Homo sapiens: one gene and its partners. The protein of the gene in region 3 interacts with the protein of the main gene of each other region in a pairwise test. Each region holds a gene or a part of one and is shown on either strand. Other genes may lie near its edges.

The links.
Region 1: the proteins of ZNF197 (region 3) and HUNK interact in a two-hybrid assay, tested with the Homo sapiens proteins (one large-scale study listed by BioGRID and IntAct).
Region 2: the proteins of ZNF197 (region 3) and RSPH1 interact in a two-hybrid assay, tested with the Homo sapiens proteins (one large-scale study listed by BioGRID and IntAct).

What each region holds. Positions count from the first base shown.
Region 1 is NC_000021.9:31,994,873-31,998,525, forward strand, and holds part of HUNK (hormonally up-regulated neu tumor-associated kinase), read left to right. Parts: intron 1-895; coding exon 896-1,076; intron 1,077-3,653.
Region 2 is NC_000021.9:42,475,696-42,479,348, forward strand, and holds part of RSPH1 (radial spoke head 1 homolog), read right to left. Parts: intron 1,750-3,653; coding exon 1,596-1,749; intron 353-1,595; coding exon 203-352; intron 1-202.
Region 3 is NC_000003.12:44,634,945-44,638,597, forward strand, and holds part of ZNF197 (zinc finger protein 197), read left to right. Parts: intron 1-3,653. UniProt on the Homo sapiens protein: May be involved in transcriptional regulation.

The DNA of each region.
Region 1 (3,653 bases), on a different chromosome or scaffold from region 3:
GCCAAGCGTTTTGGCTCACATCTATAGTCCCAGCATTTTGGGAAGCAGAGACAGGAGGGTTGCTTGAGGCAGGAGTTCAAAACCAGCCTGGATAACATAACGAGACCCCATCTCTACAAGAAATCTTTTTTTAAAAAATAGCTGGGCATGGTGATGCACACCTGTAGTCCCAGCTACTCAGGAGGCTGAGGTGGGAGGATCACTTGAGCCCAGGAGCTCGAGGTTGCAGTGAGATATGATGACACCACTGCACCCCAGCCTGGGTGATAGCACAAGACCCTGCCTCAAAAAAAAAAAAAAAAAAAAAAAGCTTCATACACACGTTCATACACACGAGTACTAAGTACGCAAGTAAGTGCTCACACGATTAGGGTAGAAAGGGCTGGAAGCCCATCAGGACCGCTCAGGGCTCTCTGGATTTGTTGTATATGTTGTGTTGGCACCTCCTTGGCTTGACTGCCCCAAATAGAACCTGATGTGAAGGTGGAAGCAGTTATGTTTCCAGTTGCCTTTGCAAAGCCGTTATTGCAGGCACAATCTTTAAATGTAGACAGTGGGTTTCCAGAAGTCCTGCTCTGCTTCACCTTGGTTTGTTGGGCTTGTTCCAGAAGAATTGACCTCCTAGGAATGCCCTGCCCTTGCTGGAATGCCTTGGAAGAGCACAGTGAAAGGGAACTGGGGTCCATTGAAGGCCTCTCGCTGCCCAGGCAGAGGGAGATGGGCTTCCTGGAGCATTGGCTGGGCCACAGCTCCTCCCTCATTCAACACACAGTTGAGAGCATAGAGTATTGAAAAGGTGGAGTTTCTCTAATCAGTTTGGATGACTTTTCAAAGAGGAATCCCATTGTGTCTTCTAGTATGTGTCTAAGTGCATATGTTTGCTTCTGATTTGTAGGATAAAAAGCCCAAAGAACAAGAAAAAAGAGGGGATTTTCTTCATCGACCATTCTCCAAGAAGTTGGACAAGAACCTGCCCTCGCACAAACAGCCCTCAGGCTCGCTTATGACACAGATTCAGAACACCAAAGCCCTCCTGAAGGACCGGAAGGCCTCCAAGTCCAGCTTCCCCGACAAAGGTGGGTCAGCTCTGGGGACTCTCTCAGGCCACTCGTGTTGGGCTGTGTGTCCGCTGTGTAGCCCTCACAGGGGATGGTCGAATGGGCCCTAGAGCAGAGATGATTCCTGTGCCCACAGAAAAGCAGGATTAATGGACCTGAGGTTGCCTGAGCACAGTCCAGGACCAAGCTGTGTGGCATTAGCCATCTGTGCAGGAAGAATTTGAGAAAACAGAGATGGGGTGCAAAGTATTACGGAAACAGAAATTGGGGTGGATGATATTGTCAGAACAGAGGTTGGGAGGCACAGTATTGCAGGAGCAGAGATCAGGGTGTGTGGTACTGCAGGGGCAGAGATGAGGCTGTAAGGAATTGTGGGAGTAGAGATGGGGTGCAGAGCAGAGACCGGGTATCTCCCTGAGTTCAAATCCCAGCTCTACTGCCTGCAGAGGTCCAAGTTCCTTTAGTGCTGAGGATCTTCACTGGATTATTTGTAAGGCCTCCCACCTGTTGGAGCTGTTGGGTAGATGAGATGAGATGCATATATAAGCTCCCTCACCTGAGTCAGAATCCAGCCCATCACAGATAACTGACAAATATGTTTCCCTCCTCTGGGACGAGTGCTAAAAGATGCAAAAGGCAGACCTTACTGGGCACAGGCTTAACACATGGTAGAAACGCCAAGAGGGGACACAGGAGCTGAGGGCGTCCTGAAGCAGAGCCATGAAGTAGAGGAGAGGTTCTTATTACTGAGGGGGATGAGACACTTCTTGGAGTTCAATCTCCTAAAATATGAAAGACCAGGTTCAGAGAGGGCCGTGGCTGTCTGAGATACACTCAGGTGTAGCGGGCAGTTAGTCCCTGAGCGGGACTTGAACCTGCCTCCTGTCCTTCTATCTCCCATGCTGCTCCCGGAGAGAAGCCACTGTACCCACTTTGCCCAAAGCAACCTGCTTTCCCTGGGGCAGAGCATGCAGTGGATCGGGGAGGGGCAGCAGTGTCCATGTGGCAGCTGGAACACTGGAGACCTTGGCCATTAATGAAGTTTTACTTCTTTCTGCTGATGCATCTCAGGTGCCTGCGCCGGCCTTTCATTTCGGTGCCTGTGTGTTTATTTCTGCAAGGCAGGGAGGCTTCCCAGTGCCCTCAGCCACTCCCAAAATCGATCCCAGTGGGCAGGAGCTTGCTCCTGCAGCTGGGCCTCCACAGAGCCTATAAAACGTTATGGGAGAAGAAAGAAGCTAAGACAGAGCTTATTCCGCATGAACTTGGCTTTATTTCCCTCATCCCCAAATCTGTAGGGGGTTTCCCCTTTCTTTTCTGGCCCAGTTTCCAAACCTGGATTCTAGTCTATGCCAACCAGAGACAGAAACCATGGGGATCTGGCAGGTTGCCTTAACTGTATGGATGGATGATATTCTTCCCCCGTTCAGAATTGGATGAGGTTCCATCCAGATCAAAAGTCACGAGGGAGCCTTAAAAGGGAAGGAAATCCTGGCACATGCTCCAACACAGATGAACCTGGAGGACATTATGCTAAGTGAATTACGCCAGTCCCTAAAGGCGGATACTGTGTGATTCCACTTATATGAGGTCCCTAGAGTGGTTAGATTCATAGAGACAGGCAGTAAAATGGTGGTTGCTGGGGGTTTCAGAGAATGGGGATGTATATGGGGTGTTAGATTTGCAACAGGAAGACAGTTCTGGAGATTGATTCTACAACAGTGTGAATATACTTATTATTGCTGAACTGTACACTTAAAAATGGTTAAGATGATAACATTTCTGCTACGTGTTTTTTACCACAATAAATAAATTTTTTAAATGTCACAAGGGAAACATGTCTTCCACTGTGGGCTGTCCAAGGACCAGATTGGCAGGAATTCAGTCAAGGGACCTTGGTGTGCTTCTGGGAGTTTTATGGATGTGCTGTTGAGTGCATGTACCTTTTTTATTCCAAGATCCTTTGGCAAGGTCCAGAATTTTTTTTTCTTTTTTTTCTTTTTTTGAGACAGAGTCTCACTCTGTCACCCAGGCTGCAGTGCAGTAGTGCCATCACGGCTCACTGCAGCCTCCACTTCCCAGGCTCAGGTGATCCTCCCACCTCAGCCTCCCAAGTAGTTAGGACCACAGGTGCATGCCACCACACCCTGCTAATTTTTTAAAATTTTTTTAGAGACGGGGTCTTGCCATATTGCTCACGCTGGTCTTGAATTCCTGGGCTCAAGCAGTCCTCCCACCTTGGCCTCCCAAAGTGCTGGGATCACAGGCGTGAGCCACCGCTGCCTAGGGTCCAGAATTTTAAGCAACCAAAAGCAGGGACGATGTTAGGCTGGGGCCATGAGGCAAATTGGAATCCAGGAGACGTCCTGTCGCCAGCCCTCTGTCCCTCCATCCTAGGAAGACTGCCCGACCTCTGTGGGGAGAGTGACATGCTGCTGGTGACTTTTGCAAAGTAGCCAAGGCTGTTTGCCGGTTGGTTTCTTCTGACCTTGGCGGGAACTGTCTCAGTTAAGCTGGAGGTCACAGCAGGCAGGAGAAGGGCCGTGAGCACTGTCCGGACGTCCTCATGATTGTTTATGCTTTCTTGGTGTGCAG
Region 2 (3,653 bases), on a different chromosome or scaffold from region 3:
CTGCAGCCAGGCTTGCAGGAGGGCCTGCCAGGGAGCAACGTTCTGAGATGGCTCCAGTGAGCGCTCACAGGGGGCCCCCTAAGCCTTCCTCGAGTCCCTGGGGCCCAGCTGAAGGCAGGCCTTGGTGAAGGGAAGGGGAATCCCACTGTTCGTGGCCCCTAAGTGCGGGCCCTCGCCCCACTTCCCTGCGCAGGGACCTCACCCTCATCCATGTCATAGCGGAACTCCTCCTGGTCATACTCCCGGCTCTCTTCCCGGAGGACGTCTGCATCTTCATCTCCAGGCCTCATGTCCATCTCACCCTCGAAGCCCTCCAGCAGAGCCTGGGCCTCCTCCCCGGGTTCTCCTGCACCTGAGATAAAACACAAGTCAGAAGCCTGAGTTCCTGGGAAAAATGGAGCCTGCAGACCTGTGCAGGGCAGCTGTCCCCTGGGCTGCCGTGCCCCCACCCTCCCCCTCCCACTGGCAGCACCTCATGTTCCCCATCTCAACATCCACCCAGCCCAGCCTAGGCCTGGCCAGGGGAGCAGCCCAGTCCCCACTGTAGTCAGTGGCTTGGGGATGGGAGCAGGTAGTCTGATAACTTTCATTCCTGAGGGTGTTGATGAGACTCTTGAGAAAGAGAAGTCCCCTGGGGTTCCTGAGAGTGCCAGCCAGGGGAGCCAGCAGAGAGGAGAGCTGGGACAGAGGGCAGAGGCTGCCCGGCCATTCTGGGGGCTGTCCCGGAGCTTCCCAGTCACATGAGCCAAGAAATTCTTAGCAGCATGAGTATTCTTTCACGGAGGCCAATCGGAGTTGGCTTTCCTCCGCTTGCCATGGAAGGGATCTCACCCGGGGTAGCCACCTTCAACTTTCCCCAGCACATTAAGGACTTCCAGAAAGACCACTGGGTTGGACATGGAGGTGCCACACGGACCCTTCTTCAGGGAAGGGCTGTCCCCTCAGCTGCTGTCAGTGCCAGCCCGGGGTCACACCCACATTCACTCACTGACCTAGGTGAGGGGATAAGGGTCCCCGAGACGCCACAGTGCTCCCCATGGAATGAAGCAAGGTTGTGGAGGCCACACCTCCGCCTCTGTCCAATCAACTCTGTTTCTTTCCTCTCCCCTCCGCTCTCCGGGAGTGTCCTCCAATCCCAAAGGCTCTCCCTAATAACATCCCGCACACTCAACTGACCCAGCATCTGATTTTCAGAGAGTCCAACCACACCTGGCCTGAAAACAGGATGTCCACAACTCCCACAGCCCAAAGGCGCCCACACCCTCCATCCCACAGCCTGGGGATGCCCCACACCCTCTGTCCCACAGCCCGGGGGATGCCCCACACCCTCTGTCCCACAGCCCGGGGGTGCCCCACACCCTCTGCCCCCTCCACCCCACAGCCCGGGGATGCCCCACACCCTCTGCCCCCTCCACTCCACAGCCCGGGGATGCCCCACACCCTCTGCCCCCTCCACCCCACAGCCCGGGGATGCCCCACACCCTCTGACCCCTCCACCCCACAGCCCGGGGATGCCCCACACCCTCTGTCCCACAGCCCGGGGGTGCCCCACACCCTCTGCCCCCTCCACCCCACAGCCCGGGGGTGCCCCACACTCTCAGCTCCTGGAGCGTCTTGGCCAGGTCCATCCGTAGAGGTCGGCTTTTTGGGGAGAGTTGGTGTCCACAGGGCCAATTCAGTGATTTGGGTAGCTTTCCATTTTGGAACAACAGTTACTAATTCTTCCTCCTCTTCCTCTTCTCCTCTTTCCTATTTTAAGTGCAAAAATGTACATTTACCAACATTTGTGTCATCTTGGTCTGGAATATTAAAAGTGAGGGAGGAAGGACAAGTTTTGAAAGACAGGTTTTGGCTTGTGTTTCAGCCTTTTTAGGACGTCACTCAGGAATCAGACCAGTTGCTGACTATCCATGGTATAATCTCAGGGTTGAGAATGGATCTTGAAAGAGCCAGGGTGAGGAATAAAGTCTCCAGAGCAATGCTGGGCCAGCGAGCTTTATAATGGGTGCCACAAAAGGCTTTCAGATGAGCATGTCGCAGTCGCCTGCAATAGCTAAGACATGGCCAGGACTAAGTGGCCAGAACTGAGTGACCAGGAGTAAGTGGTCTTTTCAATTGTTCGGCCACATTTTGCAACTCTAATATAAAAAATCGTGTATTATATAATTATATGTCTATTGAGCTTAGTAGAAACATAATTATTTATATTATTCTTTATATAAATAATAAAAGAAACAGCCATTTGTTTTAGGCTTAGGCCTAAGAAGTTCCTAAGATGTCCATATGATATGGATTTGCATAAACGCAAAAGCTCAAGTGTCAAGGATTATGGGGAAAAATAAAATTCAAGGAAAGCAGAATGAGAGTTCATCAAGTCTGAACATGGAACACTTTGTAATAAAAAATGTACAATTCCGACAATGGTGAGCAGCCAACATGTGCCAATTTTGCCAAGCATATTTGCCTACTTCTCAGTTTTGTGACTATCACAAAATTCCAAAGATCTGAGCATCAGCACTATGACTATGGAACACTTCGCTGCCACATAGGTGATAATACCGATGACAGAGAGGGGCAGACACCTGCCTCTTCCACTGAGTCACTGGGAAATCAATTACTCTCTATTTTGGTCTCAGAGTGTTTGAATATGGCCACCCATGAAGGGTGACACCAATGCTGCAGGACAGGGTCCTCAAACTTGACTTAGATCAGAATCACCCAGAAAGCATTAAAAGACAGATTGCTAGCCCCACCCCCAGAGTTTCAGATTCGGCAGGTCTGGGATAGCGTCCAATAAGCTGCATTCCTAACAGATTCCCAGGTGAAGCTGACAGCACTAGTTTGGGAACTGCACGCCACTTTATGTATAAAACCAAGAGGTGGAACCCTTTCACATTGCTGGTGGGAACGTAAAATGCTGCAGCTACTGTAGAAAACATTTGACAGTTCTTCAAAAAGCGAAACAGCATCACCATATGACCCAGCAATTCCACTCCTCGGTATATAACCAAAGGAACTGAAAACAGAGATTCGACCAGATGCTTGCACACCAATGTTCACTGCAGCATTATTCATAATAGCTAAAATGTGGAAGCAACTCAATTGTCCATCAACAGACAAATGGATAAGCAAGAACCTTGAAAACGTCGTGCTAAATGAAAGAAGCCAGACACAAAAGGACAAATACAGAATGAATTCATCTATATGCGACATCTAGAATAGGCAAATTCATAGAGAAAGAAAGTAGATTAAAAGCTATCAGGGGCTGGGGGAGGTCGAATGGGGAGTTGTTGCTTAATAGGTACAGAGTTTCTGTCTGGGATAACGGACAAGCTCCAGAAATGCATCATTCTCACAGCTGCACAACACTGAACGTACTGAATGCCACTGAAAGCATGCTTTAAAATGGCAAATTTCAAACTCTATAAACGTACATATAAAACCATAATTTAAAAAGAAACAGGGAGTGAGCCGTGGGCTGCAGCTTGGCAAGCCCTACTCTAGAAGGGATACATTCCCCTTACTAGGGAGAGAGAACACGGAGGCCCTTCTGTTCCACCACCATCCTAATCCATCCCCACAGCACAGTGGGAGGCCTTCCACAAAGCCCTCAGGTTGTTGCTGCATTATTTCATGGGTGGTTTTTCCTAAAC
Region 3 (3,653 bases):
CCAAGTAGCTGAGACTCTAGGCATGCACCACCCTCCAAGCTTGTTTTTTAATCCAAGTAGCTTTCAGTAGTTCCAAAGCTATTTACTCAATAATCAATCTTTCCTAAAAATTTTAAAATAGACTATATGGATTAATTGGCTAATTTTATGAAGAACACTCACCATGGACCCATACCTCATGCTGTATACTAAAATAAATTCCAGATAGGTCTAAGAGTTAAACTAAAAAAAAAAAAAAACCAATAAAATAATGTAATTGCTTGATTATTCTGGCTCTTTGAAGAAAAAGAAACTTGAACCTACTTTAATAAATTAAAAAAAAAATGTGCACTCCGATGTTGTTGGGGCTTCGGGCAAGCAGATGCCCAATGTTTATTCCCATTGACTTAGTAACTCTGATTTGAGATACATTAAAGAAATGGTTCAGAAAGAGGAAATAAAAGTTATATGTCTAAAAATAGTCCCAGGTAACTATGATGGTTAAAAGTTGGGCAAAACAAATTCCCTAAGGGTAAAGTACTAAGCAGAACATGGTGTTTTGACCTAATAGTATATTATGACACTATCAAATATTATGACAACTCTGTGTACTCAATTTTCATGCATCGATAAACTGTGGTAGAAAAGTAGACTCCCAGATAACTTGTACATACTACTTCAGTATGTAAAATATTTGTATATGTTTATTTAGGAGATTGGACTAAAACTTGAAGGAAAGTATTAAGAAATATTGAGTACCTCCCCTGTCAGGCTTAGCCCCTGCCTTAAAGTACATTCAGATTGGAGAGATAGACATTTCCACTTATAATTACAATACAATTTGGCACATTCTGTATAATAAAAGGGTGCATAAGTTTGTGTGAGCCCATAGGATCCTGGGAATGATGGAAGGATTGGGACAGTGGGAGGAGGAGATGGATGGTTCCCAGTTCCTCCACCAGGAAGGAAAGATTTATAACAGTTTTACTGAGGTATATTTAACATACCGTAAAATTCACCATTTAAAGTGTACAGTTCAGTGGTTATTGTGTATTCACAGAGTTGTGCAACCATCACCACAATAATTTTAAAACATTTTCGGCCGGCATGGTGGCTCATGCCTGTAATCCCAGCCGTTTGGGAGGCCAAGGCAGGCGGATCACGAGGTCAGGAGATCAAGACCATCCTGGCTAACACGGGGAAACCCCGTCTCTACTAAAAATACAAAAAAATTAGCCGGGTGTGGTGGCAGGTGCCTGTAGTCCCAGCTACTTGGGAGGCTGAGGCAGGAGAATGGCTTGAACCCGGGAGGCAGAGCTTGCAGTGAGCCGAGATTGTGCCATTGCACTCCAGCCTGGGCGACAGAGCAAGACTCCGTCTCAAAAAAAAAAAAAAAAAAAAATTTCATCAACCCCAAAAGGAACCTTGAACCCTTCAGCAGTCCACCTTCATTTCACCTAACTCATTCCTCCAATCCAGCCCTAGCAGGCACCAATCTACTTTCTACCTCTGTAGATTTGTGTATTTGAAACATTTCATATAAATGGAATCATGCAATATGTGGTCATTTGTGATTGGCTTCTTTTACTTAGCATAGTATTTCTAAGGCTCATCCATGTTGTATCAGGTATCAGTTCTTTATTCCTTTTTATTGCCAAATATTCCATTGAATGGATGTATCTCCCATTTATCAGTTGATAAATACTTAGGTACTTCCGCTTTTGGTCCATTATGAATAATGCTGCTATGAACGTTTGTGTATAATTTTTTGTGTGGATATATGTTTTCATTTCTACCTAGAAGTAGAATTGCTAGGTCTTATGATAACTCTGTATTTAATCATTTGAGGAACTTCCAGACTGTTTTCCAAAGCAACTGCACCATTTTACACTCCTTCCAGCAGCGTATAAGGGTTCCTGTTTCTCTGCATCATCCCTAACACTTGTTATTATCTGTCTTTTTTATTTTAACTATCCTAGTGGGTCTGAAATGATATCTCACTGTGGTTTTGATGTGCATTTACCTGATGGTTAATGATGTCAAGCAACTTTTTATGTTCTTATTGACTATATGTACGTCTTCGGAGAAAACTGTCTATTCAGATTCTTTGTCTATATTTTAACTAAGTTATTTGTCTTTTTATTACTAAGTTGTAAGAGTTCTTTATATATTCTATATATAAGTCCCGTAACAGATATATGACTTACAAATATTTTCTCCCATTCTGTGGGGTCTTGCCCTGTTGCCCAGGCTGGAGTGTAGTGGTGTGATCATAGCTTACTGCAGCCTTGAATTCCTGGGCTCAAGCGATCCTCTCACCTCAGCCTCCCAAGTGGCTGGGATTACAAATGCACCCCACCAGCCTGGCTAATTTTAAAATTTTTTGTAGAGACAGAGTCTTACCGTGTTGCCCAAGCTAGTCTTGAACTCCTGGCCTCAAGCGATCTTCCTGCCTCAGCCTCCCCAAGTGTTGGCATTACAGGCATGAGCCACTGGGCCTGGTGACTTTTCCCTTACTTGATGGTATCCTTTGAAGGACAAAAGTCATTAATTGTGATGAATTCCAGTTTTTTTTTTCTTTTGTTGCTTCTGCTTTTGGTGTCATATCTAAGAAACCATCACTAATCTAGGGCCGGGAAGATTTATGTCTATGTTTTCTTTTAAGTTTTAGCTCTTACATTTCGGTCTTTTATCCATTTTGAGTTAATTTTTTTATATAGTATGAGATAAGGATCCATCTTCATTCTTTTGCATGTGGCACCATTTATCCCAGGCACCATTTGTTGAAAAGACTGTGCTTTCCCCATTGCATTGTTTTGGCACCCTTTTAAAAAAGCAGTTGATCATAAATATCAGGGTTTATTTCTAAAGTCTCAAATCTAGTCCTTTGATCTATATGTCTACCCTTATGTCAGTATCACCCTCTTTTACTATTTTGGCTTCATGGTACATTTTGAAATAAAAAGGTGTGAGTCTTCCAACTATGTTCTTTTTCAAGATTGTTTTAGCTACTCTAGGTCTCTTGACTTTCCATCTAATTTTGGTATCAGCTGGTCAATATCTTTGAAGAAGCAAGCTGAGATTTTAGTAGGGATTGCAATGAATCTGTAGATCAATTTGAGGAGTACTGCCATTTATCAATGTTAAATCTTTTAATCTTTGAACATGAGGTTTCTTTCCATTTATTTAGGCCTTCAGCTTCTTTCAGTAATGTTTTGTAGTTTTCAGAATATAAGAATATAAGTTTTTCACTTCTTTTGTTAAATTTATCCTAATCTTATTGTTTGAGACTATTATAAATGTTTTATTAATTTTCTTTGTGGATTATTTAATACTAATGCATAGAAATACCACTTTTTTTTTTTAATGCGATGGGGTTTTATACGTTTCTCAGGCTGACCTTGAGCTCCTGGGCTCAAGCAGTCCTCAGCCTAAATCTACTGAATAGCTTTGACTACAGGTGTGTGCCACTATGTCAGGCTGATTTTTATATGTTGAGCTTGTATCCTGCAATCTTGCTGTATTTATATATTAGTTTTAATAGCTTTTTAGTGATTTCCAAGGATTGTCTATATGCAAGATTTTGTCATCTGCAAATAGAGATAATTTTACTTCTTCCTTTACAATCTGGATGCCTTTTATTTCTTTCTCTTGCCTAATTGCTCTGGCTAGAA